Homo sapiens: one gene and its partners. The protein of the gene in region 1 interacts with the protein of each later gene in a pairwise test. Each region holds a gene or a part of one and is shown in the gene's direction. Other genes may lie near its edges. The genes, in order: LDLRAD1, SLC41A2, LAPTM5, ADGRG7, PTTG1IP and MARCHF2.

Region 1 (4,283 bases):
GATGACAGGCGCCTGCCACCATGCCCGGCTAATTTTTTGTATTTTTAGTAAAGACGGGGTTTCACTATGTTGGCCAGGCTGGTCTTGAACTCCTGATCTCAGGTGATCCACCTGCCTCGGCCTCCCAAAGTGCTGGGATTACAGGCATGAGCCACCATGCCTGGCCTCCTCTGGCCATTCTCAACCAAGACTGGCAGGAGCTGGCAGATTATTACCCCAGTTCCCCTCACCTTGAGTGGGATAACTCTGAGGGGCATCTTCTCCCCTAGCTTCCCCGAGTGCCCCAGCAGGGCTAAATTCCACTTGCCCACAGCGGAAACCTGCTTCATAACACGACTGTTATCGGATCCTTCTCTTCCATGTCTCATTTCCCTCACCCCCCGACCAGCATTTCCTGGGATCACTCCCAATTAACTCTACTTGCCCTCAAATCTTGTCTTAGAGTCTGATTCTGGGGAACCTTAAACTAAAACACCCCCTTCATCTAGCTTATATCTTTATTTTCTGGATGAAGGAACTGAGGCGCAGGGAAGGGGAGTGAGTCACCCGTCAGAGCCAGTGGTAGGGCCCTAATGAGAGTCCTGTTCTCCCGGCCTAGGGCTCAGCTCTTCACAATGTTACTTGCTGCCTCCCAAGGGCTGCCCCTGTGTCTGTGCCTCCTACTTGCACCCACGTGGATTCATCATTTTATTTCCCAATGCAAAAGAAAAGGCTGATTGCAGGTTGGAAAATCTATGGGCATCAGAGGCAGGTGCAAGAACTCCTGAGCTCATTTCTGGAGGTAGACACCTCTCCTCCCTTGGTCCGGGTCCTTGGACCTGTCCCTCAAGATTCCAGGGCCTTGGTTTACTCAGCAGTGGGACAGGCTGCTAGGGAAACCCACTCACTGGGGACATAGAAGGGGTTGTTCACGCAAGCAACCAGCCCCCCGCCTCTTCCCTACCTCAGCACCACCTCAGGGGCAGTAAAAATTCACATTGCCACGTTTCTAAATGAAACAATTTAAAATTATATTTGCTTTATAATTTTAGTGGAAAATGCATATTCTTTCAATCTAGGTCACCTATGTAGTTGAACAGAAGAACATCAATGAGAAAATGACCCCTACTTTCTAGCCACCGAAACGTCAATTCTGGGAGTTTCTGCCTGCATCTTCATACCCCTGGAACCTGAGCTCCTCCGGTTCCATCTCTGATGTGGAGGAAAATGCACTTTCTGAAAAGTTTCTGGGTTTCACTCCTCCCATGCACTGTGAGACTTGGGGCAGTTTCTCCCTCTCTGAACCTCTGGCTCTTCATCTGTGGAATAGGGATGAGGATTCCAGCCTCGCAATGTTGCTGTCAGATGGCAGATGAGGGAATAGCCTGGCCGGAGAGGGGCCCTCCTGCCTTTGCCTCTGCTTGGAAGGCAGCTGACAGGGGCCTGCCCACAGGGAGGGTGTGGCCCGGGCAAGGCCTCCTGCTTGTCCCTCCTCCAGGTTGGCCTTGGTGACAATGCAGGGAACCCGTGCTGAGCTCTCTGCACACAGCCCCAGTCGGGCAGCAGGAAACCGAAGACATGAACAAGGTCTTCCCCCAGGTGAGAGCTGTCCCCAGGTGAGAGTTGTCTCCAAGTAAGAGCTGTCCCCAAGTGAGAGCTGTCCCCAGGTGAGAGCTGTCCCCAGGTAAGAGTTGTCTCCAAGTAAGAGCTGTCCCCAGGTAAGAGCCGCCCTGACCAGGCTCCTGATCTTGGGAGAGCAAACCTTGGGATGAGGAGTGGGCAGTAGAGAGTGGGCATACATGGGAGACACGGAGGAAAATCAGCCCCCGTCCTGCCCCGGGGCTCACTCCCAGGGTGTAGGGGACCCTACCAATGACCCAGCAATACAGTCCAGGTGGCAAGTGCTGGTATGGAAACAGAGGAGCCAGGTGGACAGGAGGGAAGAGCGGCCAGTTTTACTGGGGAGGAGGGTATCAGGGAAAGCCTCACCCAGGAGTCGCTGCCCAAGCCGGTTTGAAGGATGAATATTTATCAGGTGGACAGCAGAGAAAAAGGCTTTCCAGGCAGAGGGCACAGTGCAGGCAAAGGTGTGGACATATGAAGCGGGCATGATGCATCTGGGGCGTGAGATGCTGGGGTGTGACGGACCCGTGGTTCTACCTAAGACTCTCTCAGTGACCCCTCTGAAAACCCTGTTGTCTGCCTCCCTGAGGCTGGAGCTCACCTCACCTAAGCCCACCCCTCACTCTGTTCTCTTGGGCAGGGAGAGAATGGCTACACTGCTGCTGAATCCAAAGCCCACCCTGGAGGGGAAGGTAAAGAACTGGAGGGCCTGGGGCCAGTGCCCTGTGGGGCTCCCTTGAAGCTGGCAGTTGGCGATAGAGACATGAGGAGGGTTCAAGGCTCCCACTGTCCCTCAGACCTCTGCCTCCATGTTAACGTTGTCTGCTCCCAGCTTCCTGGCCAGCCATGCTGACAGTCACTTGCTTAATAGGGTTATTCATTCTCTCCATGCACATGCATTCATTAAGCACCTACTGTGTGCTGCCTACCTCACAGGCACCAAACTGCATACAGTGCCCACCTGTAACACAGAGAAAAGAGCACCAGCGTCAAATTCTTGACTCAGTGGGTGACCTGGGCAATTCTCTTTAACTCTGATGGATAAAGTGACACATTTATTTAGCCCTACTATGTGCCACTGGCCCATGGTGTGACCAGGACAGTCCTCTTTACCCTTCTGAAAATAGAAGAAGGAAGAAACACACATGTACTGAGCTTTGCATATGCCCTGGCTTGGCCCACATTTGATCAATGACGAAACACACTCAGAGAGGTAGATTAAAATACCAGCTATAAAGAATCCATCCCCAGTTAGGTGCCTGGCACTGCATGATCTCTTTAATCCTCAGGACAGCTCTGAGACAGGGGCCCTGTTATGGGGCAATAACAGATGAGACAGCTGAAACTAAGAGAGGTTGAGTAACCAGGCCAAGGTCACACAGCAGGGAGGTTGGAGGGCCAGGGTTCAAATGTGAACTGAGGTCTCTCTGGTTACAAAGCCCCAGGGCTTTTGTTGCTCCGAGCTGGTGTTTGTTTATTTCTAAGTCCTGACTCATGATGGGCGGGGTTGTGGAAAGAATCACCTCCTTTTCCTCATCGGTACAGGGAGAGGACTGGCACCTAAGGGCTTTCTGGCTTTGAAGTGCAACAGCTTCACCTGGGCAGGAGCCTTGGTTCTGCGGGTTCTCCCATGGCCCCACCTTGTGCATGGTCTGTGCTGCACAAATATTTGAGGAGCTGCTTGGCTGATCAGGACACCTCTCCCTGCCCAGAGTCACGCTGCCTCCCTGGTTACCTGAGTTTACCCTGTTTGCTGATGGCCAAGGAGCCACCAACTAGGGCTGTAGGGATGACAGGTTTTAGATTTATGCTGCCTCTCCTGCTATTGTCTCCCCTCCCAATACACATCCATCTTGGAGTCCCACCACCCCAGGCCATTTGTGCTCCCCCACCTGCAACCACTGGGCCTTTACTCCTGCCACGCCCTCTGCCTGGAATGCCCTCTCTTTGCACCCTCCCCTTACCTGCCTGTGGAAATCCCATTCTGCTTCTGAGGACACTGCATCAGAAATGTGAATGGATTGGAAATAACCTGGACTGACCCATACTGGGGGCCTTCTCTTGCCTCCTGGACCCCCAGGTCGGCATATTCACAGAGTGTTCACAAAGCCCCAGGCCGGTGTGGTGGCTCACACCTGTAATCCCAGCACTTCGGGAGGCCAAGGTGGGCGGATCACCTGAGGTCAGGAGTTCAAGACCAGCCTGGCCAACATGGTGAAACCCGTCTCTACTAAAAATACAAAAATTAGCCAGGCATGGTGGCGGGCGCCTGTCATCCCAGCTACTCGGGAGGCTGAGGCAGGAGAATCGCTTGAACCCAGAAGGCAGAGGTTGCAGTGAGTTGAGATCATGCAACTGCACTTCAGCCTGGGCAATAGAGCAAGACTCCGCCTCAAAAAAAAAACAAAAAAAACAAAAAAAACAAAAGCCCCCACCACGTGCCTGGCTCTGGGCTGGGCCCTGGGGTCACAGGGATGAATCACACCTGCTCCTGCCCCTTTCTCTGAGGTACCTGTGGCCTGGGCACGTCAGTAGCTCCCACACCCCTTCAGGCATGTCCATGCCTTGCCTTCTAAGTGCAATAACAAGCTGCAGAGGGCAAGGACCAGGGCAAGCTGCACAGCAGGGCACCCAGGAGGTCCTCAGTAAAGCCTTCTTTTATTATTTTGTAAGCAGGGGAG
Region 2 (3,500 bases), on another chromosome or scaffold:
AAAAGATCAGGAAAATCGCCTAGACATTCATTTGTTTCTGTAAGTTAAATAAATTGGGAAACTCCTTTCTGGACATCATGCAGGGGATTTACTAGCTTGTCACTTGAGTAACAAGTGTTCCAGGAATTCTGGGTTTCAAAAGTCATCCTCTGTTGAAATTTTTTTGTTTCAGATTTCAAGAAAAATTTCTTCCCTGTTTCTGTGGCAATACAAATATAACCTTATACTTAAGATAGCATATTGTTGGCTATAGAATTTAAAGAGCCAGAAGGTTTTAAAAATTAACTACTTTAGAACTTTTATTTGGGTTATTTTTCTTTATATTTATTCGTATGAACTTTACACTAGAGAATTAGCTTATTGTGGAATCACAATCATAAAGACTTTGTTCTTTTTATTTTATAATTGCCATTTTCTTGCCCTTATATCACCAGCAAAGTTTAAAGTGGATTATTGTCATGTTAGGTGATCATACAATGCAGCTAACTTTTTTGGCTAGGTTCTGGGAATTTAGGGAATCTTATTAAAATTATAACTCGATTTCCAAAATATTTTCAAGCATTTTGTTTTAGTAGTTTAATTGTATCGGGGTAGTTTCTTGTCTTCATAAAGAATTACTATAGTTGAATGGAGTTAACATTGACCAAAGCAGAGTGAAGTTAAGCTATTGGAAAATTAAATTGTTGGTACAAAAATAATTATGCCATCAGCATGCTATTTTTTTAGGCTCATTTGCTTCTTTTTTCTTTCTGATTTTATTTCATTTAGAAAGTGTCATTTAAAATTTTTCAGTCTAACAAGTATTTGAAAGCTTTTCAAAACTATCCAAAATTCAGAATTTTAAAAAGTATTTGTTTAAAGCTTCTGACTTTGAATAATGTGTGTTCTAATTTTATGATAACTTGACCTTTATAAGCACTTTAGTATATGTAAAGTAGAAACTCTTAGCCATATTTGTAGGTGAGAAAACTTAGGTAAGGTGACTTGTCCAATCTCATCAACTTGTTACCAGCTGAATCAGAACTAAAACACGTTTCCTAACTCTTAGCTCTTTCCACTGGACTATGATACATACAAAATATTTGTTTTCAGTTGAAAAGATATAGATGGTACTATGTGTAGGAGAACTTCCCATATACATCTTCAAATGTGCTGATTTTGGAAAAAGATTCTAAGCGATTACATCTTGCCTGATTATTGCATAATGTATTTTTTTTAAAAAGTTTTCTGCTATAGCTTTTTTTCTTTTTCAATGATATTATGGGAAAGGTAAGTCTAGTAATTTAAAAAGCCTCCAGAATACTAAAATATAAGGCACTGTTTGATGCAAGACAAAAATTCTGCTTATTAAAATTTTGGCTTTAATAGGTAGAGTAAAAAACACTGGGCTAGAGTCACAAGCTATGTGACTTTAGGCAAGAATTTAAGCCCTACTCTACAGGACCTCAGTTTTATTATCTATAAAGTGAGTATGCTGGAACAAAAACATTTAGAGTCATTTTAACTCTAAAAGTGCTGTGAGATTCTGTTACTGTTTTTCTCCATAGCCATATTTAGGCTTTCATATTGATTTGTGGTTAGCACATTTAAAGTTTTCTCTTTACTACATCCTCTTAATGAGTATCTTGGTGTGACAAAATCTACACAATTTAGAGTGGATATAAATGTTAATAGTTTTATCCCATTTGTATAATTTAAGAAAATTAGGATGTAAAAGTACAAGTACACAGTTAAATTTTCATCTTCTATTCTCTCGTAGGTTTATAGACAGAAACTTCAGGTTTAAAGAATATCTTTTACAAAGACTGTTTCTTGTATTCTGGCCTTCAGTGTTTTAAAATTTAATTATGTCCTGCTGCTTAATACTTCAACGTCTTTAAGTAATAAAATGAAATAAGCATTTCTAGCTGCCATATGTAAACAAATCTGGTTTTGTTGGCCTTCTTCCCAGTTGTTGTACATATACATATGACTCACCTTTTTTTTTGATGTTTTCATACTTTATTTGAGGGTTAAAATTAAAACCTTTGGATTCAATACACACAAATACATTATATCTAAGATATACATGTCACTAAATCTGAAATTTTAGCTTTACCATAATTTTAGTAGCTTTCAGGCCTCTAAATACAATGCTGAACTTCTTAAATTTTCTATGATCCCCACTTGGAGTTTGTTGAAAGGCATTTTGCCAAAGCGTTAGAGTAAATGTTTTGTTTGCTTTAGTCAGCTTATCTAAGCAGTCTAACTGGAATTGATATGCTGTTTTTCTATCCTACACATTTTGGTATTTGGGGGATTGATTTTCTTTAAATCATAGCCTAAAAAGTAATGAACATTCTTTCTTCTAGGAATAATAATGGTTGGGGTTATCGTTGGTTCAAAGAAGACTGGTATAAATCCTGATAATGTTGCTACACCCATTGCTGCTAGTTTTGGCGACCTTATAACTCTTGCCATATTGGCTTGGATAAGTCAGGGCTTATACTCCTGTCTTGGTAAGTTGATTTAAAACTAAATATTGTGTGTTGTCTCAAGTCTCTTTAAATAAATATTGTTGCAGCAATGCCATGAATCCATGGTAGCCTTCATTTGCATTAGAACTGCTGTTGAGACTGATTAGGATAACTATCATTTGTTTTATACCTACTATGTGTTATGATTCCCACTTTCTTTTTTCTCGTAGAGTTTAAAACTCTGTAAAATAAGGATTATCATCTCTAATTTTAGATGAGAAAAGCAAGGATCATAGAAGTTATGTATGTTACCCAAGTTTATATAACTACTAGTAAAAAAGTTGAACACAGGCTTATCATATTTTGTGATTTCTGTCCTTTCCTGTAAGTGTACAGCAGCTAGGAGTCAACCTGCAGTGTTCTCTGTATAGAACCATCTCAGAATATAAGCTTATAAGTGGTACTTAAAATTTACCAATGGAATGTTTTTCCCCATCAGAAACCCACACCAATAAGTAGCTTCATGGCAGTTAACAAAAGGGAAAAAAAAATCACCACAAAAATTAGACTGAATGCTGTATAAAGTTGGAGCCATATATGTAATTCCTGATAAATAGTGATAGAGTATTTATGGAATCTAATGAGTTGTTTTAATGCAAATTTGTGTTCTGGAAATGGTAAATACATATGATTTGTGAGTGTTGATGACATGCTAAAAGTTCATTGTGGTTTTATTATTTTTAGATGCCAAATTAAGGAAAACAGAAACTTACAGTAATACAAGAAAAAAACATGAGTATATAAGCCAAGCCAGAGGCAAACATTTATTCACAAATCCTCACATATGTTCATGGATTCTATACAGATTTATGGTGTACTTTAAAATAAATCTAAAGCATGTTTCGTTTTAAGAAGTAAGGGTCTCAGATATATGTTCTTGAAATAAAGAAAGGGCTTTAACCAACCAAAGGCAATAATTTTCTGTGACTTTTGGAGACATCAAGGAAGCTTCACTTAGCATATAAAATTGCCTTAAGTTATTTA
Region 3 (3,500 bases), about 23 Mb from region 1:
AGGCCGTTTGCCTTGTGCAGGGTGGCTGTGGGTGCTTGTGCAGAAACTCAAAGGGTTCAGCTAGAGAAATGGAGAAATGGAGCAGGTGGTCCCTGAAGACTCTGAGATCAGTCAAGATTGTTCTGGTTGCCTCCTGAGTGATTTTAGACGACCACATGAGACACCAGGAAACCACTGTTGCAGTGATTTTGTCCCCAGCTGTGAGAGCATATGAATGAATACTGGTCATGGTGGTCACTTGCTTTCAATTGAAGAAGAGGGACTTCAGCCTCTTCCTGGCAGGGCCTCTTACTGTGACTTTGGACCCCTGGGAGTGGCTGGTGGAGGAAGGTCCAATTGTATGCGGGGCGTGGTGGGGAGTGGGGGGTGGGGGGGAGGGGCTCTCTGCTGCCTCCGGGCCTTCACTCATGTTGGTCTTTCTGCCTCCAGTGCCCCGCCCCTCCCTCCTGTTCACTCCTAGTCTCCTTCCCCGATCTAGCCCTGGTGTCCCCACCTCCAGCAAGTCCTCTCTGGTCCCCTCTCCTCTGTAAAAAGTGCACAAAGCCCTTCCTTGCTGGGTTCTTGTGAGCAAATTGAGTCAAATCCTGCTCTTTGAGCCCTGATAGATGGGGATGGTTCCCTTACGTCTCCTGGGACACCAAGACTCCTCTCATTCAGGGCCTGGGTCTTATCCACTCCCTGTCCCCAGAGTGTCACTCAGAGGGAGGTGACCTCAACTGAGGAGGGCAGGGAAGGTTTGGGAGAGGGTGGGAAGGGGATGCATGAGGATATCAGGCTGGGTGGCGGAGTGTTGGCTGCATGCAGGGGACACTTGACGGTGCTGGGCCTACCTTTCAGAACCGGGAGAAGTACCTGCTGCCCTTCCTGTCCCTGCAAATCATGGACTATCTCCTGTGCCTGCTCACCCTGCTGGGCTCCTACATTGAGCTGCCCGCCTACCTCAAGTTGGCCTCCCGGAGCCGTGCTGTGAGTACCCAGCCCCCACCTCTCACCGGACAGCAGAGCCCAGGTCTGGCATGGGAGATGGGAGGGGACCAGACACGGGCCCTGTGCTCAGGCTGGGGAGGGTAGGAGCCCTCTTCCTGGCTGGTGTCTTGACCCAGTCTCTGAGTCCCTCCACATTGCCCCAAGTTTCTTCCTCTGTGGAATGTACCTGCAATCACATCTCATCAGCCTGCCTTATGAGGGTTACATGAGGAACACACACATTGGGGGTGCAGCCCATGGTCAGCACTCAGTCAGTGCTGCTGGGAGTGAATTGACACCTGAGGAAAGGACATGTGCGCTTTTTAGCCCCCAGCCCCCAGTATTATTTCTTCTTTGGAACCAAGTTGAAGAAAGGAAGAGAAGGATGATTCATGCCAGTGAGCGCCCACTGTGGGGTGGCTTGAGGGCTGCTGCCAGTCAAGGACACAGTCTCCCAAACCTGCTTTTCTCACTCTCCCCAACTGTTGTCCTTGAAGAGACCGGGGGGCTACATCATGGAAGGGCCCTGGCCCGGGAGTCTGGAGACCTTGGTTCTAGTCTTGGGTCTGCCACCAGCTCTTGGTATGAACATCTGTGTGTTCATGTCTCTCTGTGCACAGGGGACGAGAGTCACTGATGTCTGTAGCTGAGACGGTCTCTCAAGTGAGGGCCTACTATGTGCCGCTCAGTAACTGGGACTTTAATTGCTGCTCCTCATTCCTCCTCCTTGTATTTGTCCTCCCCAGAGCTCCTCCAAGTTCCCCCTGATGACGCTGCAGCTGCTGGACTTCTGCCTGAGCATCCTGACCCTCTGCAGCTCCTACATGGAAGTGCCCACCTATCTCAACTTCAAGTCCATGAACCACATGGTGAGTCTGGGGCAGGGAACCATGCCCATTTGCTGGCTGTGTGGCCTTGAACAGGTTACTTCACGTCTCTGTGTGTCTGTGGTTTAGGCCAGGTTCCCTGGAGTTGGAGCTTGGGAGGAAGATTCTTGTGCTGGTGATTTATTGAGGGAGCCCTCTCAGGAAGAAACTTGTCAGGAGTGAGGAAGGCAGGTTCGAGAAAAGGAGGAAGCCAAGCAAAGAAGCAAAGATGTGGCTGTAGGAGCAGCCCTGCATGATCCCAGAGAGGGCTTTGGCATGTGAATTGCAACACAGACATAATATCAGTTTTTATTGTTGTCTAATGAATTATCTCTAAGCATCATGGCTTAAAGCAATAAACATTTATTATTTCACACAGCTTCTGAGGATCAGGAGCTTGGGAGTGGCTTAGCTGGGTTCTTCTGACTCAGGGACTCTGGTGGGGCTGCACCAGAGATGGTACCTGGGGCTGTGGACAACTGAGGGCTTGATTAGATCTGAAGGATGAACTCCTGGTGGCTCACTCACAGGGCGTGGGCTCTTTGCCTAATTCCTCATCCTGTGGACTTGTAGTAGTGCTGCTTGAGTGCTCTCCTGACATGGCTGCTGGCTTCCCCTGCGGGAGTGATGTAAGAGATAAGCAAGGAGGAAAGGCAGTGTCTTTTAAGACTTCTATCACTTCTGCCACATTCTGTTAGTTAGAAGTGCGTTGCTAAGTCCAGCCCACACTCAAGGGGAGAGGAAATAAACACCACCTTTAGAAGGGAGGCGTCTCAAAGAATGTGTGGTAATATTTGCAAATGACCACAGAGGCAGTCTCACCTAGGGCGAGTTCCCCTGCATCAGTCATTGGTTTCAAGCTGCCCCTAGGGGAGGGAATGTAACCTCCCAGGTATTAGTGGATTAGGTGGTCCCTGTCAGCCAAAATGATCTTGTAGAGAAGAGCATAGGTGTGGCCCATGGGCAGCTGACACCTGCCAGCTGGGGATGGGCCGGTGCGCCAGCCTGGGAAGCAGATCTGGAGATAGTAGCCACTTGGCTTTTCTTGGTTTGCCCGTCAGTGGGATGGGGCTGAAGGTAGCACCTGCTTCCTAAGGCTGCTGTGGCGGTCGACCAAGGTGACGGCTGTGCCACGCTGTGCTCGTGTGTGTGTGGAGGGTGGGATCATTATTCCCGGATGTGTGGGTGCTGTTGGAATTCCTTATGTCCAGAGACATTGATGTGGCCCCCAAATCTGTTGCAGAATTACCTCCCCAGCCAGGAGGATATGCCTCATAACCAGTTCATCAAGATGATGATCATCTTTTCCATCGCCTTCATCACTGTCCTTATCTTCAAGGTGAGTGGATCCCTGCCCTGCGGCTCTGGGAGGGGTGGTGAGGCTGTGCTGGGCCCAGGCCTGCCCATGCCAAGCTGTTAGAAGGCAGGGACATGTGTCCTCCATGCCTCCTCTCCTGCTTTTAGCTCCTTTCTCTTGCTTTCCCATGCCAGCTCCTCTGACTTTACTTGGGATCCTCCGAGACAGCCCATTTAGGGCATGTGAATCCGTAAAGGCCACCTGCGTTCAGATGTCTAATTCCAGCTGTCTGGAATTAGATTTGGACTGGCCTGCGTTTGAATCCAAGCCCCACTGTCACTAGCTGCGTGGTTGGTCTTCAGCAAGTCACT
Region 4 (3,500 bases), on another chromosome or scaffold:
AATACTAGTTCAAGACTACTACTGATGGTGCCCCAGGATCGTAAAAGAAGTAATCATGAAATTTTCCTGTGGAAATATTTCCACAAACAAAACCCATAAAAGTCTCATGGAAGAATAATAAATAAGACAAAGATGAGTTTACAATACAAAATTACATGCGAACCATGATGCTGGAGAGACATCAGATGTCATCAAAAGGATTAACCCTCCCAGAATTGGATATAACAAAACCATCTGAAAGAGAATATAAAATATGTTTAACAAGATTAAGCCTTTAAAATACAGGAGAAAAATAAAAAAAGAAAAATACAGTATTTTAAAAAGAATAGGAGAATTTGAAAAAGAACCAAATAATACTTTTAAAATAGAAAATATAGTAATGATAAAAAAATTAATGAGTGATTTAAAAGGAGGTTAGAAATCATTAAGGTGCTGAGCATGGTGATTCATGCCTGTATTCCCAGCATTTGGGAGCTCAGGCTGGAGTGTCACTTGAAGCCAAGAGTTTGAGAGCAGCCTTGGCAACGTAGCAAGACCTCATCTCTGCAAAACACAAAATATTATTTCAAAAATAACCAGGCGTAGTGGCGCCTGCCTGTAGTCTCAGCTACTGGGGAGACTGTGGCAGAAGGATCCCTTGAGCCCAGGAGATGGAGGCTACAGTGAGCTATGATTACACCTCTGCACTCCAACCTGGGTGACAGAGGGAGATCCTGTCTCTACAAAACAAACAAATAAAGTCCCCCCTCCACACCCTAATAATTACAGAGAAAACTAGGGAATGGAAAAGAAAGCTAGGAAACTGTAATTCAACACAGTAATATAAAGAGATGTTAACAATAATGAGATTAAAAAATTTGATGTATAGAAGGCTAAAGTCCAACAGGGTCTATGAGACATTTCAGAAGAGAATAGAAAATATGGGAGAAGCAACTCTTAAAGAAGTAATAACTAAAAAGTTTTCTTGATTGAAGGATGACTTTTCAAGTAGGCAAAGCAAAAACAAACCACATCATGGTAAAATTGCAGAACATCAGATAAAGAAAATTTAAAAGATGTTTATAGAAAAAAGAGTCCCCCAAAATAAATAAAAATTGGAAAATAATATTTTCTTTTTTTCTTTTTCTTTTTTATTGTACTTTAAGTTTTAGGGTACATGTGCACAACATGCAGATTAGTTACATATGCATACATGTGCCATGTTGGTGTGCTGCACCCATTAACTCGTCACTTAACATTAGGTATATCTCCTAATGCTATCCCTTCCCCTCCCCCCACCCCACAACAGGCCCTGGTGTGTGATGTTCCCCTTCCTGTGTCCATGGGTTCTCATTGTTCAATTCCCACCTATGAGTGAGAACATGCGGTGCTTGGTTTTTTGTCCTTGCGATAGTTTGCTGAGTATGATGGTTTCCAGCTTCATCCATGTCCCTACAAAGGACATGAACTCATCATTTTTTATGGCTGCATAGTATTCCATGGTGTATATGTGCCACATACACAATGTCTATCATTGTTGGACATTTGGGTTGGTTCCAAGTCTTTGCTATTGTGAATAGTGCCGCAATAAACATATGTGTGCATGTGTCTTTATAGCAGTATGATTTATAATCCTTTGGGTATATACCCAGTAATGGGATGGCTGGGTCAAATGGTATTTCTAGTTCTAGATCCCTGAGGAATCGCCACACTGACTTCCACAATGGTTGAACTAGTTTACAGTTCCACCAACAGTGTAAAAGTGTTCCTATTTCTCCACATCCTCTCCAGCACCTGTTGTTTCCTGACTTTTTCATGATCGCCATTGTAACTGGTGTGAGAATGGTATCTCATTGTGGTTTTGATTTGCATTTCTCTGATGACCAGTGATGATGAGCATTTTTTCATGTGTCTATTGGCTGCATAAATGTCTTCTGTCGAGAAGTGTCTGTTCATATCCTTCGCTCGCTTTTTGATGGGGTTGTTTGTTTTTTTCTTGTAAATTTGTTTGAGTTCATTGTAGATTCTGGATTTTAGCCCTTTGTCAGATGAGTAGATTGCAAAAATTTTCTCCCATTCTGTAGGTTGCCTGTTCACTCTGATGGTAGTTTCTTTTGCTGTGCAGAAGCTCTTTAGTTTAATTAGATCCCATTTGTCAATTTTGGCTTTTGCTGCCATTGCTTTTGGTGTTTTCGACATGAAGTCCTTGCCCATGCCTATGTCCTGAATGGTATTGCCTAGGTTTTCTTCTAGGGTTTTTATGGTTTTAGGTCTAACATTTAAGTATTTAATCCATCTTGAATTAATTTTTGTATAAGGTATAAGCAAGGGATCTAGTTTCAGCTTTCTACATTCGGCTAGCCAGTTTTCCCAGCACCATTTATTAAATAGGGAATCATTTTCCCATTTCTTGTTTTTGTCAGATTTGTCAAAGATCAGATGGTTGTAGATATGAGGCATCATTTCTGAGGGCTCTTTTCTGTTCCATTGTTCTATATCTCTGTTTTGGTACCAGTACCATGCTGTTTTGGTTACTGTAGCCTTGTAGTATAGTTTGAAGTCAGGTAGCGTGATGCCTCCAGCTTTGTTCTTTTGGCTTAGGATTGACTTGGCGATGCGGGCTCTTTTTTTGGTTCCGTATGAACTTTAAAGTAGTTTTTTCCAATTCTATGAAGAAAGTCATTGGTAGCTTGATGGTGATGGCATTGATCTATAAATTACCTTGGGCAGTATGGCCATTTTCACAATATTGATTCTTCCTACCCATGAGCATGGAATGTTCTTCCATTTGTTTGTATCCTCTTTTATTTCACTGAGTAGTGGTTTGTAGTTCTCCTTGAAGAGGTCCTTCACGTCCTTTGTAAGTTGGATTCCTAGGTATTTTATTCTTTTTAAAGCAATTGTGAATGGGAGTTCACTCATGATTTGGCTCTCTGTTTGTCTACTATTGGTGTATAAGAATGCTTGTGATTTTTGCACATTGATTTTGTATCATGAGACTTTGGTGAAGTTGCCTGTCAGCTAAGGAGATTTTGGGCCGAGACTATGGGGTTTTCTAGATATACAATCATGTCATAGTAAAGCACTCCTCAGCAAATGTAAAAGAACAGAAATCATAACAAACTGTGTCTCAGACCACAGTGCAATCAAGCTAGAACTCAGGATTAAGAAACTCACTCAAAACCGCTCAACTACATGGAAACTGAACAACCTGCTCCTGAATGAATACTGGGTAAATAATGAAATGAAGGCAGAAATAAAGATGTTCTTTGAAACCAACAAGAACAAAGACACAACACACCAGAATCTCTGGGACACATTCAAAGCAGTGTGTAGAGGGAAATTTATAGCACTAAATGCCCACAAGAGAAAGCAGGAAAGATCTAAAATTGACACCCTAACATCACAATTAAAAGAACTAGAGAAGCAAGAGCAAACACATTCAAAAGCTAGCAGAAGGCGAGAAATAACTAAGATCAGAGCAGAACTGAAGGAAATAAAGACACAAAAAACCCTTCAAA
Region 5 (3,500 bases), on another chromosome or scaffold:
TTCTATTGGAAGTCATTTCAGCTTTAAACATAGCTCACTATTGTATGTGGCTTTGTAGCCTAGAGTGCGTTTTTGCCATAGTACCCTGTGTAACCCTCACCACCCTGGGCAGGGTGTGGTGATGACAGCCATCTCGTGGATGAGGCGGCTGAGGGACTTGCCCAGGTCATTGTGGATGGGGCCAGTCCAGAAGGGCTGAAGGCCTGACTCCAGTTCTGAACCCAGACAGGGCGGTGAAGAGGGCCGCTTGCCCTACAGTAGCTCCAGGCGTGTGTGGGTGTGCTCTTGGGCACACAGGAGGTTTCTGGAAGGAGGTGTCAGTGCCTGGGAGGTCTCAAGAGGACCTGCGTGTTGGAGCAGTGGCTATGGTGGGCTGTGTCCACGCTCCTGAGGCCGTGGCGGGCTGTGTGTCTCTGTGTTGCCGAGGCCGTGGCGGGCTGTGTCTCTGCTGCTGAGGCCGTGGTGGGCTGTGTCTCTGCTGCTGAGGCCGTGGTGGGCTGTGTCTCTGCTGCTGAGGCCGTGGTGGGCTGTGTCTCTGCTGCTGAGGCCGTGGTGGGCTGTGTCTCTGTGCTGCTGAGGCCGTGGCGGGCTGTGTGTCTCTGTGTTGCCGAGGCCGTGGCGGGCTGTGTGTCTGTGCTGCTGCCTGAGCTGCTTGCTATGTGCATATTACTTCATCGATCAGAAAAGCAGCACAACCACCAGAGAACACCGTATCCTCCCAGTGCAGTCCTGTGGCTCATGGTACCACTGTCATGGAAAAATGGAAAATCAGACATTTACAACTTGAGCCACTTGAAAAGGGAGGATTAGCCAAAAATCGTTAATTGCAAGCAAAACCCCTGAAATGGAAGATACTCCCAAATGACCAGAATAAACAGGGTTTAACTGTTAATTGTTACATTATGCTGGAAACCACTTAAACACGACACTAAGGTGGTCACTGTATAAGTAGCCCTGGGAAAGAAGGCCCAGGGGACATTGTAATTAATATTTTTTTGTAATAGACTTTTGCCCTAACCTGGGCCAAAAACGCCATGACTTTCTATCCTATTAAAAAGTCAGTAACACTGTTAATGTGGAGATTGGGAGTAACAGGCAGTCTGGACTTGGGTCTGGACTTGGGCTGGCGCATGAGGTGCTGCCGAACGGCAGTTCTTTTTTTTTTCCTTTTGAGACGGAGTTTCACTCTTGTTGCCCAGGCTGGAGTGCAATGGTGCGATCTCGGCTCACCGCAACCTGCGCCTCCTGGGCTCAAGCGATTCTCCTGCCTCAGCCTCTGGAGTAGCTGGGATTACAGGCATGTGCCACCACGCCCGGCTTATTTTGTATTTTTAACAAAGATGGGGTTTCTCCATGTTGGTCAGGCTGATCCCGAACTTCTGACCTCAGGTGATCCGCCCTCCTGGCCTCCCAAAGTGCTGGGATTACAGGCGTGAGCCACCGTGCCTGACCCGAACAGCAGTTCTTTCACCCCTTCCTGTGCCATCTGCCTGCGTGCTAGGCTGTCCCCTGTCACGCTCAGTGCCTGGCTCACAGACCGCTTTCGGGCCTCGTTGTGTACTGCTGTGGCATGGGCTGGGCCCAGCTCTGGGCTCTTACACACACACACACGGGTGTGATGGTGTTGTCTCCACACCACTGCGGCCTCACACCTGACGTTCAAGGGGCTCAGACAAGAGCGTCTATGAGGTTCTCTCCAGCTGTCAGTTTAGGGCGGGCTGAGCCGTAGTTGCATCATCTTTCAAGCTGTGCGACTTAGTGCAGTTGTGAAGGTCAGAGGTAGGAAGCATGGTCCTTGCTACAGATGGTGACCATGCTCACCCAAGTCCATTCAACACAAACTCAGTGAGTGCCTGTGATGGGCCAGGCTGTGTCCTGTGTTCTTGGGAGACTTCAGCCAGTGAAGTGCACAGGTGCCCGGCGTGTGGGGAGGAGAGGTCTACGGAAGCAAACCTCACAGGAGGTGAGGAGGAGGGGGTGGAGGCGGCTGGTTGTGTCCAGTCTGTTGATCGAGGCAGGGCCCATCCAGTCAGTGGGGAGCCACACAGATGTGGGGAGAGTGCTCCAGGCAGAACCGGCAGGCTGAGCTGAGGCTGAGAGCATGAGGTGGGGTTGGCAGCACTCAGGAGGCTGCCAACACAGAGGCCCCGTGGCCTCAGCAGGGTGAGTTGTGGAAGAGGCCTGAGTGACGCGGGCCTTGGATGAGTCCGTGGAGAGCTGACAGGGCTGCTGGCCGCTGTGCTGGGTGTGGACCGAAGGGCGCTGAGGGTGAAGGCAGAGATGAGGCGTTGAGGGGGAGGTTGAGCCTTTACAGCCATCCACAGAGCGATGGCAGCACTGGCGGGCTGTGGGCAGAGCCTGGACAGTTCTTTGGTTTTTCTGTTGTTTCTAATGCTTGCTTAATGTTGGTCTCTTTCAGTGTCTTTGGTGCAACACTAACAAGGCTTGTCTGGACTACCCAGTTACAAGCGTCTTGCCACCGGCTTCCCTTTGTAAATTGAGCTCTGCACGCTGGGGAGTTTGTTGGGGTAAGTCATTGTTTTCATTTGCTGCTTGCAAAATCGATGCTTCTTTGAAAATAGTAGTATGGGCCGGGCGCGGTGGCTCACGTCTGTAATCCCAGCACTTTGGGAGGCGGAGGCGGGTGGATCAAGAGGTCAGGAGATTGAGACCATCCTGGCTAACATGGTGAAGCCCCGTCTCTATTAAAAATACAAAAATTAGGTGGGCGTGGTGGCATGCACTTGTAATCCCAGCTACTTGGGAGGCTGAGACAGGAGAATTGCTTGAACCCGGGAGGCGGAGTTTGCAGTGAGCCGAGATCGTGCCACTGCACTCCAGCCTGGCGACAGAGCGAGACTGTCTCAAAAAAAAAAGAAAATAGTATTATGTGCTCAGTTAGCAGAAGTTGCTAGAAAATGTGCTGCCAGTAGCTCTGTGACTCCCAGGGAGAGGTTGGGAAGCCAGGGGTGATCTGCTGACCGGGAAAGCAGCCCTGGGGAACCTGGAGGACCTCCTTCAAGGTGGTCAGCCCCAGCACTGAGCTCTATCTCACCACGTTACAGAAGGTGTGGGGAAAAGGGTGAGTTTGAAGGCAACGTGTTTGACTTCTCTGCTCAGTATGTTTTGTTCATGTGTCACCCCTGAAACTCACCTGTGAATTCCCCTAGAATCTCCAGTTTTCCCAGCTTAAGAATCCCTGCTTGCGTAGACAGCCCTCTTTTTTTGTGTGCGTATCTTTGTATATTTGATTTTGGAGGCGTTTTTAAATTAAGGAAATCAGCTCTTGTGAGATTCAAGTTGTTTTCTAGTTTGCCTTTATTTATTTATTTATTTATTTTTGAGACGGGCTGGAGTGCAATGGCACTATCTTGGCTCACTGCAAGCTCCGCCTCCCAGGTTCACGCCATTCTCCTGCCTCAGCCTCCTGAGTAGCTGGGACTACAGGTGCCCGCCACCACGTCCGGCTAATTTCTTGTATTTTTTAGTAGAGACGGGGT
Region 6 (3,500 bases), on another chromosome or scaffold:
CCACCTCGGCCTCCCAAAGTGTTGGGATTACAGGCATGAACCACTGTGCCTGGCCTCTTCTCTGAATTTGCTCTCCCAAACTTTTTCACAGTTTCCCAGAACAAGCTCCAAACTGACATGATTCTTCCTCAAGATTCTCGTCACTTCTGTTTCCCTGGGTTGGTTTCCGGACAAAGGGTTCCTTTTTTGTTAACTTTGTTTGTGTGTGTACTTGGGGGAGGGTGGGATCGGGGTATGGGTTCAGAAAGGAGGCAGGCAGGCATGCCCTTTTGCCATTGCAGGAGGAAATAGCAGTCCAGGGACAGGACTGTTGAGAAAGCAGCCATGAGCAGCCTGTTGGGCTCTTTTTAAAGCCGCCCAACTCCACCCCGCAGCATGAGAATCTGAGAAAAGGATAGAAAACAGTCATTTCCAGGCAGGCGTGGTCGCTCATGCCTGTAGTCCCAGCACTTTGGAAGTCCAAGGCTGAAGGATCGCTTGAGCCCAGAAGCTCAAGACCAGCCTGGTCAACATAGTGAGACCCCCCTCTCTAGAAAAAGTTAAAAAATATTAGCTGTGTGGCGTGGTGCCACCTGTAGTCCCAGCTACTCGGGAGACTGAGGCAGGAGGATCGCTCGAGCTAGGGAGTCCGAGGCTGCAGTGAGCTGTGATTGCACCACTGCACTCCAGCCTGGGTGACTCAAAAAAAAAAAAAAAAAAGAAAGAAAAAAAAATACAGTCTCTCTGAGAGGAAATTGGCGTTGTCTGGAAAATAGCTCTTCTTTGTGTGACCTCACAGTCTGCCTTCTGGCCAGAAATGTTTGGGAAACAGTGACTCATGGCTGTTTGGCCTCTGGGCCACGCCCCCTGCCTCCTGAGCTGCCCTGGGAAGGACCCGGCATCCCCAGAGACTGGGCCAGGGCTGGAGACTTTTCCGAGGCAGCTTTCTGCAGATGCTTTTTATTTCTATTTCCCCCTCACAAGGGCAGAGGAGCAGGTGAGCACTTCTCTCTGGATGCACAGGTTTCTCAGGTAGCACGGGCTTCAGGTGTGATTAGATCCAGGGGCCCGCAAAGATGTCCTTAAGAATCTACCTTTCCCAGGCCTTGCGCAGTGGCTCACGCCTGTAATCCCAGCACTTTGGGAGGCCGAGGCGGGTGGATCACGAGGTCAGGAGATCGAGACCATCCTGGCTAACACGGTGAAACCCCGTCTCTACAAAAAATACAAAAAATTAGCCGGGCGTGGTGGCCGGCGCCTGTAGTCCTAGCTACTCTGGAGGCTGAGGCAGGAGAATGGCATGAACCTGGGAGGTCGAGCTTGCAGTGAGCCGAGATCGCGCCACTGCACTCCAGCCTGGGTGACAGAGCAACACTGTCTCAAAAAAAAGAAAAAAAAAAATCTACCTTTCCCTGTCTCTTGGCTCTGCTCTCCTCTGTGCTGGCATCATTCACAGGCTCCACACAGACTAGGCAGCTGCAGGAGCTCCAGGCTTCTGTCAGCCTTGTGGCCGACAGTTCTGGAGTTTACGGGGAAACAAAGAATTTTAGGAATAGATTATCGGTGACTCTGATGGTATCATACAAGCCTGAGTTGGTTGCATGAGCAGGGGTGCGTGCTGTTCTATTTTCTTTTTCTTTTTTTCAAATGGTCTCACTCTGTTGTCCAAGCTGGAGTATAGTGGTACAATTATGGGTCATTGGAGCTTTGAACTCCTGGGCACATGTGATCCTCCTGCCTCAGCCTCCCAAGTAGCTGGGACCACAACATGTACCACCACGCCAAGATAAGTCTTTAAAAAAAATTTTGGGACCGGGCGTGGTGGCTCACGCCTGTAATCCCAGCACTTTGGGAGGCTGAGGCGGGCAGATCACGAGGTCAGGAGATTGAGACCATCCTGGCTAACACGGTGAAACCCCGTCTCTACTAAAATACAGAAAAAAAAAAAATTAGCTGGGCATGGTGGCATGTGCCTGTAGTCTCAGCTACTCGGGAGGCTGAGGCTACTCGGGAGGCTGAGGCAGGATAATCGCTTGAACCTGGGAGGTGGAGGTTGCAGTGAGCTGATATCACACCACTGCACTCCAGCCTGATGACAGAGCGAGACTCCATCTCAAAAAAAAAAAAAGAAAATTTTTTTTTTATAGAGATGAGATCTCACTAGGTTGCCCACACTGGCCTTGAACTCCTCGGCTCAAGTGATCCTCCCGCTTCAGCCTTCCAAAGTGCTAGAATTACAAGCATGAGCTACTGCTCCCGGCCTGGTGTTCTGACTGGTCCAGTATGAGGCCTGAGGTCATGAGGAGTGTTGTCTGCTCTGCCCTAGTCCTTGAGGATTTTTTTTTTTTTTTGAGACGGAGCCTCACTCTGTCACCCAGGCTGGAGTGCAGTGGTGTAATCTCGGCTCACTGTAACCTCTGCCTTCCAGGCTGAAGTGATACTCCTGCCTCAGCCTCCCCAGTAGCTGGGATTACAGGCACCTACCACCACGCCCAGCTAATTTTTGTATTTTTAGTAGAGACGGGGTTTCACCATGTTGGCCAGGCTGGTCTTGAAATCCTGACCTCATGATCCTCCTGCCTTGGCCTCCCAAAGTACTGGGATTACAGGAATGAGCCACCTCACCCAGCTGGTCTTTGAGGATTAAGAGTCGAGGATTGGGGGCCGGGTGCGGTGGCTCACGCCTGTAATCCCAGCACTTTGGGAGCCTGAGGCAGGCGGATCACAATATCAGGAGATCGAGACCATCCTGGCTAACACGGTGAAACCCCGTCTCTACTAAAAATACAAAAACACAATTAGCCGGGCGTGGTGGCAGGTGCCTGTAGTTCCAGCTACTCGGGAGGCTGAGGTGGGAGAATGGCGTGAACCCGGGAGGCGGAGCTTGCAGTGAGCCGAGATCGCACCACTGCACTCCAGCCTGGGTGACAGAGCGAGACTCTGTCTCAAAAAAAAAAAAAAAAAAAAAAAGAGTTGAGGGTGGGGAAGTTGTGCAGGACAATCAGGGTGGGTATTTTAGGGAAATTTGGAGAGGACATGGGGGCGGGTATAACAGATGCCCATCTTGGGTCTGAGAGGGTGCTGCAGGGTCCCTGGGAAGGGAACACATCACTCCACCTGTGGGAGTCTGGGAAGGCTTCGCAAGGTTACCTTCCCTGCATCTCCTTCCCAAAGGGAAGGACATTTAGAGCTGGGCATTGAAGGATGAGTAGGAGTTCACTAAGTGGCAGCATGGGGTAAGGGTGAGCTTGTGATCCAGTGGGTAGTGAAGCAGGTATAGACAGAAAGCCCAATCATTGCTCATGGGTCCTATCTCTGTGTCCAGTGATGGTCCTTTCTGCCGGATCTGCCATGAGGGAGCGAACGGGGAGTGCTTGCTGTCCCCGTGTGGCTGCACCGGCACGCTGGGTGCCGTGCATAAGAGCTGTCTGGAGAAGTGGCTTTCCTCATCTAACACCAGCTACTGCGAGCTGTGCCACACGGAGTTTGCAGTGGAGAAACGGCCTCGACCCCTCACAGAG

Evidence for each region.
Region 2: the proteins of LDLRAD1 (region 1) and SLC41A2 interact in binary tests that used the Homo sapiens proteins (3 or more experiments, as listed by UniProt).
Region 3: the proteins of LDLRAD1 (region 1) and LAPTM5 interact in binary tests that used the Homo sapiens proteins (3 or more experiments, as listed by UniProt).
Region 4: the proteins of LDLRAD1 (region 1) and ADGRG7 interact in binary tests that used the Homo sapiens proteins (3 or more experiments, as listed by UniProt).
Region 5: the proteins of LDLRAD1 (region 1) and PTTG1IP interact in binary tests that used the Homo sapiens proteins (3 or more experiments, as listed by UniProt).
Region 6: the proteins of LDLRAD1 (region 1) and MARCHF2 interact in binary tests that used the Homo sapiens proteins (3 or more experiments, as listed by UniProt).

Annotation. Positions count from the first base shown.
Region 1 is NC_000001.11:54,015,387-54,019,669, reverse strand, and holds the start of LDLRAD1 (low-density lipoprotein receptor class A domain-containing protein 1), read left to right. Parts: upstream 1-1,483; 5' UTR 1,484-1,493; coding exon of another isoform or gene 1,494-1,557; coding exon 1,558-1,578; intron 1,579-2,242; coding exon 2,243-2,294; intron 2,295-4,283.
Region 2 is NC_000012.12:104,885,291-104,888,790, reverse strand, and holds part of SLC41A2 (solute carrier family 41 member 2), read left to right. Parts: intron 1-2,351; coding exon 2,352-2,498; intron 2,499-3,500. UniProt on the Homo sapiens protein: Acts as a plasma-membrane magnesium transporter. Can also mediate the transport of other divalent metal cations in an order of Ba(2+) > Ni(2+) > Co(2+) > Fe(2+) > Mn(2+).
Region 3 is NC_000001.11:30,737,275-30,740,774, reverse strand, and holds part of LAPTM5 (lysosomal-associated transmembrane protein 5), read left to right. Parts: intron 1-837; coding exon 838-966; intron 967-1,542; exon of another isoform or gene 1,543-1,619; intron 1,620-1,712; coding exon 1,713-1,835; intron 1,836-3,075; coding exon 3,076-3,171; intron 3,172-3,500. UniProt on the Homo sapiens protein: May have a special functional role during embryogenesis and in adult hematopoietic cells.
Region 4 is NC_000003.12:100,616,101-100,619,600, forward strand, and holds part of ADGRG7 (adhesion G-protein coupled receptor G7 isoform 1 precursor), read left to right. Parts: intron 1-3,500. UniProt on the Homo sapiens protein: Orphan receptor.
Region 5 is NC_000021.9:44,860,191-44,863,690, reverse strand, and holds part of PTTG1IP (pituitary tumor-transforming gene 1 protein-interacting protein isoform 1 precursor), read left to right. Parts: intron 1-2,419; coding exon 2,420-2,528; intron 2,529-3,500. UniProt on the Homo sapiens protein: May facilitate PTTG1 nuclear translocation.
Region 6 is NC_000019.10:8,423,305-8,426,804, forward strand, and holds part of MARCHF2 (E3 ubiquitin-protein ligase MARCHF2), read left to right. Parts: intron 1-3,304; coding exon 3,305-3,500. UniProt on the Homo sapiens protein: E3 ubiquitin-protein ligase that may mediate ubiquitination of TFRC and CD86, and promote their subsequent endocytosis and sorting to lysosomes via multivesicular bodies.